Linked DNA regions of Homo sapiens: region 2 is linked to region 1. A link means that fine-mapping ties the variant in region 1 to the expression of a gene that starts in the linked region. Tissue or cell type: whole blood. Region 1 holds a variant in brackets; the other region holds the start of a gene. All regions are shown on one strand. Distances are between the middles of the regions.

The links. PIP is the estimated chance that this variant, and not a neighbour inherited with it, causes the effect.
Region 2: it holds the start of DAP, and the variant in region 1 is fine-mapped to the expression of DAP in whole blood (TOPMed, PIP above 0.99). The same link has a PIP of 0.9 or more in testis.

The regions. Positions count from the first base shown.
Region 1 is chr5:10,882,652-10,885,563 of GRCh38, reverse strand. No RefSeq gene overlaps it. Among named protein-coding and RNA genes, the nearest start is that of CTD-2154B17.1, 97 kb to the right of the region's middle. The variant A/T (reference allele first, on the strand shown) is at 1,400.
Region 2 is chr5:10,759,594-10,762,505 of GRCh38, reverse strand. DAP (death associated protein) reads left to right here and starts at 1,272. Exons shown (of 4, transcript NM_004394.3): 1 at 1,272-1,492. The coding sequence starts at 1,438. DAP-DT (DAP divergent transcript) reads right to left here and starts at 1,470. Exons shown (of 3, transcript NR_187555.1): 1 at 1,290-1,470. RefSeq lists silencers at 737-1,206, 1,287-1,716 and an enhancer at 369-1,214.

The DNA of each region.
Region 1 (2,912 bases):
AGGCTCCCACAACCACACCCGGCTAATTTTTGTATTTTTAGTAGAGACGGGGTTTCACCACATTGGTCAGCCTGGTTTCGAACTCTTGACCTCAGTTGATCCACCTGCCTTAGCCTCCCAAGTGCTGGGATTACAGGCATGAGCCACCATGCCTGCCTCTTGACAAGATTTCAAAGTGACATTAATAAAACAAATGTAGAGACTTGACTGAGAAGTCAATCAAACGAATACAGGATGTGGGGGGCCCACAGGGAACCACAATCCATGCGAGAAGGTCTAAGGGAGCTAGTGGAATGCACTTTCCATCTTGCTGCAAGGACAGCTCATACCATCTTGGTACATGCTCACGGAAACAGTGACCAGACCCAAAGCCACGATCATCACATTGTTATGCGTTAAATCATTGTCTATTCCTGTGTGAGTTCCCCAATGGGCCTGCCTCATTTTTCTCTACTAACATCAGGAATGTAAACGGTGATTACACCTGTCACTGGCAGAACTCAGCATTCAGGAAATCTCAAGAGTTACATCTTCTAGGAAGTTTATTGAGGATCCTCAGGAAAGTGAGACTACGTGGGTTACTTTCTACTGAGGCCTGGAACTGATAGTTGGACCATTCTACTTGACAAAACCAGACGCACAAAATCCACAAACCAGAATCAACCCCACTGTGAAGACTTTCTAAATTAGCTACGGAAAGGAATGAACATGTATCGAATTAGCAGTTTATAATGGGCAATAATTTACCGAAATTACAACTAATTATGGAGCTACTTTATATTAGAAAAGCTAAGGAAGTACTTGCCTTCATGAAAGATCCACTATGTTATTATTCGTTTGGTAGATTCCATCATCCAAAAGAAAGAGGTATGTGAGGAGTGGGAGTATGTGTGCATTGGTGTGTTGAATGAATATTTGTTAGAATGCCACTGTAATACAGCTATTGATTTTTTAACTATTTATCTTTGCACTTTAAGTGGTCATTCTAGGGATTAGACTATACATCTTTATCTTTTCACAGCCTACTTCTTTTTTTTGTTAATTAAACTTTAAGTGCTGTGATACATGTGCAGAACGTGCAGATTTGTTACATAGGTATACACGTGCCATGGTGGTTTGCTGCACCCATCAACCCATCATCTACATTAGGTATTTCTCCTAATGCTATCCCTCCCCCAGCCCGCCACCCCCCGACAGGCCCCAGTGTGTGATGTTCCCCTCCCTGTGTCCATGTGTTCTCATTGTTCAACTCCCACTTATGAGTGGGAACATGTGGTGTTTGGTTTTCTGTTCCTGTGTTAGTTTGCTGAGAATGATGGTTTCCAGCTTCATCCCGTGTTAGTTTGCTGAGAATGATGGTTTCCAGCTTCATCCATGTACCTGCAAAGGACATGAACTC[A/T]TCCTTTTTTATGGCTGCATAGTATTCCATGGTGAATACGTGCCACATTTTCTTTATTCAGTCTATCATTGCTGGGCATTTGGGTTGGTTCCAAGTCTTTGCTATGGTACATAGTGCACAGCCTACTTACTTCTAAGGTACTACTTCATATAACATAATGAAACTTGCAGCCTTACTGGTCACTTGATCTGTCTTCCATCCTAGATGCTGTAGCTATCATATCTATTATAAATTCCACATGGCATGGTATAACGTTTGCTTTAAATTAGTCATGTGTATTTTTATTTGAAGATCTGTGATTTGGGACATATACATCTATGATTGTTTTAACTTCCTGATTAATTGACCCTTTGTCATTATAAAGTGTCCCTCTTTATCTCTGGTAATATTTTTTGTTGTGATGTGTATTATCTGATATTAATATATAGCTACCCCAGTATTTTTACGCTATACGCATGGTACATCTTTTAACACCTACTTACTTGCATGTCTTTCAACCTATCTATATCTGTGTATTTAAAGCACATCTTGCTTTCTTGAGTTGGGCCTTGCTTTTATATCCATCCAGACTACCTCTGCCTCTTAGAGTGTTTAGTCCATTTACACATGATGGGCTCTTACATTTACATTTGAAAGATAAAGTGGGATTCGGATCTACTATTTTACTATTTGTTTCTTGTTCATCCCATCTATTTTTGGTTTCTCTGCTCCTCCTTTTCTATTTCCATTGGGGTTAATTGAATACTTGGTAGAATTTGCTGTTTATAACTGTTATGCTGTTATTTGAGGTTAGATGACTACCTGGTTGTTCATCTCTCCCTCCCTGTCTCTGGTGTTCTGGTTCTCACCATTCTTTAGCTACTGCCATCCCTACAGGGAGATACAGAGCATCGCAGGTGGCTCCCATTTCCACATCCCTCTCCACCCGCTCGGCCCTCCTTCCTTGCACGGGCAGTTCCCTGTCGCTTAGACAAATGCGTGCACTCACCTGCTGGCAAAAGAAGGCAAAGGAGCATTTTCTAAGAAATGCAGCAGAAGTCTATGTATGACTGAGGTGGGGCCTGCTTTTTTCACTGGTTGAGTTCTTTTTTTTTTTTTTTTCCCTGAGACGGAGTTTCCCTCTTGTTGCCCAGGCTGGAGTACAGTGGCGCGATCCCGGCTCACTGCAACCTCCGCCTCCTGGGTTCAAGCGATTCTCCTACCTCAGCCTCCCGAGTAGCTGGGATTACTGGCATGCGCCACCGCACCCGGCTAATTTTCTGTATTTTTAGTAGAGACGGGGTTTCTCCATGTTGGTCAAGCTGGGGTTGAGTTCTTTTGGTGGTTATTCGAAGGAGCTACTTGAGCAGCCCAGGTGACATTAGTAATGCCCAGGGTCTCAGCTTCGAGAACTCGAAGACACTTGTTGAGAAAAATTCAGGAAGGTAAAGTGAATGCCTCGACAGCACAGCTCCCGGCCTCATGCAGCCGCCGGCAGGACGAGCACGGCCTCACAGTGAGCGACTCTGCTCCT
Region 2 (2,912 bases), 120 kb after region 1:
AAGGCATTGCGGAAGTTAACAGCAGTTGCAAAACACTGGGGCAGGCGGGAAGAACACGATCCAAGGCACGAGAGCCAGGGGTCAGCCACGGCAACAGGAAGATGATGGTGAAAACCAAAAGTTTCTGAGAGTGGTCTCAATTTAGGAAGTTTATTTTGCCAAGGTTAAGGACGTGCATTGACACAACCTCAGGAGGTTCTGATGACATGTGCCCAGGGTGGCCAGGAAACATCTTGGTTTTATACATTTGAGGGAGACATGAGACATCAATCAATACGTAAGATGTAGGTTGGCTCTTTAGGAGGTAAAATGTGAAGTGGAGGCGTCCGGGTCATAGGTACATTTAAAGGTTTTCTGATTGGCAACTGGTTGAGAGTTATCATCTAAAGACCTGGACTCAGTAGAAGGGAATGTCCGGGTTGCATGAAGGAGTTGTGGAGACCAAGGTGTTATCATGCAGATGAAGCCGGGAATACACTGCAAATGTTTCTTATCAGAGTCCTCTATTAGTCTTAGGGTCTCCGTGCGGATGTTTGTGAGGCCATGTTTGACTTCCGCTTCCCATCAAGGCCTGAACTAGTTTTTCAAGATAACTTAGAAGGCCACAGGCGGAGGGGAGGGTCCATCCGTTGGCTGCAGGGCTTAGAATTTTATTTTTGGTTCATAACGAGGAGGGCAGGGACAGAAGCCACCGTCTCTGCTCCCCAGCGCTGGCCCTCACTCGGAAAGCAGGCTCTCCCCTCGCATCGTCTTTTAACAAATTCCTGCTCTCTCGGCCCCCGTCGCTGCCATCTGGGCTCTCCTTTCCGCGCTTCATTAGGCGCTGCCGCGGCAGGGGCTGAGGGCCTCAGGGGACGGTCGCCTCCCTGCCGGGACGCCCCGGCCCTGGCCCGCACTGTGGGGCGCAGTCACCCAGCCGTCGCCGCGTAGCCAGGAGCCCGGCTGAGCGCGTTCGCTGCAGGAGCCATCCTCAGCTGGGCCCTACTTAACTTTCCGCAACTCCAGTCCCCGCAGCCAGTCGGGGACCCCGCCTCCCTCTCCTTCCTTCTCCCTCTCACTTCTTCACCCCTTCTCTCCCCTCCCTCCTCCGCCCCCGCCCCCGCCCCCGCCCCCGCCCCCGGCCACAGCATCCGACGTGGCGCGGCCGGCTGCGCACGCACCGTATGCTTGGCTCGCGGCCCAGCAGGGCGGGCGGGCCGCGGTGACGTCAGTGCGCATGCCGTCGGTGGGCTCGGCTGCGCCACGTCGGCGCGCGGCGGCCGCGCCCCCTTAACGGCAGTGGCACTCACCCGGCTCGCGCGGCCCCGGCGCCCCACGCGCGCGCGTCGTTCTCCCGCCCGCTCGCTCCCCGGCGCTCACACCTGAGCTCACTCGCGCACGCCCGCCCGGCCCGAGAACCGCGCCGCCGCCTCGGCCCCGCGGAAGCCCCGCCGCGTCATGTCTTCGCCTCCCGAAGGGAAACTAGAGACTAAAGCTGGACACCCGCCCGCCGGTACTGACTCTTTTCCTCTCTCTCCACGCGCGGGTGCCGGGGGCGGGCTCGAACCCGGGGGCGCCGGGCGGGGGCTCCGCGGGGAGGGCCCCGGCGAGCGCTGAGACGGGTTCCGGGCCTTGATGCCCGCCCGAGGGGCGCGGGCCGCGGAGAGGTCGGGCGCCCAGGCCCGGGAGGAGCCCGCCGGAGCTTCGGCCCCGCTTGCCGGCGGCGGCGAAGCGTTTCTTCCTGAGGACCGCGGGCGGCCGCGTACCTGTGCGATTGCGCGCAGGCTCCGGTGCCTTGGGCGAACCCAGTTGCACAACTTATAACAAAGTTTTGGCGGATAATATTTACTTAGAGGATACAGATGTCTAGAAAGAAAGTAGCAGAAGCAATGAAAAGTCAGTGGTGTTAATATCATGGTGATGATTAATTAGAGGCTGCCAGCGTTTCATACCGACTCAAGAACCAAGGAGCGGAAATAATTTTTATCATTAATCACTCAATATGACTTTCACCGCCAGTTTCTTCCACATCCAGATTTTTTTTTTCCCCCAAAGTTGCTTTTTCTGATTTTGAGCAAATCCTAAACTTCTGAGCCAAGGAAGTTAAAGCCAGGAAAGAGCGGTCTTTCTTAGAACATAGGGATCTAAGCAGCCTTCATGCTTCTGCCACCTCCTCCTCTCTCTGGGCACAGTTCCTGTTTGCACTTTGGATTCTGTCCAGACGGGTCTGTTTCCGTTTCTACTCTCCTTTCCAGTGGCAGTCGGCCCATATGGAGGGACACTGGTGAGAAGATCAAAGGCCTTGGGTCTCAGAAGCCAAGTCACTTCAATGTATGGATGCGTGAGGTTCTTTTAGGTCTTAATAGCACGCCTTAGTGTCATAAACTCAGTCTTGTAGGAACAGAAGTCTTTGAGAAACATGGCTTCTTTTGGTGGCACATTTGCGCCATTTTCTTGACAATAAAGATTCCTGGCCAGGCGCGGTGGCTCATGCCTGTAACCCCAGCAGTTTGGGAGGCCAAGGAGGGTGGATCACTTGAGGTCAGGAGTTCAAGACTAGCCTGGATAACATGGTGAAACCCCATCTCTACTAAAAGTAGAAAAATTAGCTGGGCATGGTGGCGGGCGCCTGTAATCCCAGCTATTCAGGAGGCCGAGGCAGGAGAATGGCTTGAACCCGGGAGGCAGAAGTTGTAGTGAGCCAAGATTGAGCCAAAGCACTCCAGCCTTGGCGACAAAGCGAGCGAGACTCCATCTCAAAAAAAAAAAAAAAAAAAAAAAAGATTCCCATTATCCTTCTCTGCTGTCCTCCGCTATAGGGCGGGAATTCTCTGCACCAGCACAATGAATAGGAGCCGTTCTTTAAATATGTTGCAGTCCAGAGTAGGCAATATTTTTCAGTGGTGACGGAGGCTCTCTACAACAAAACTAAC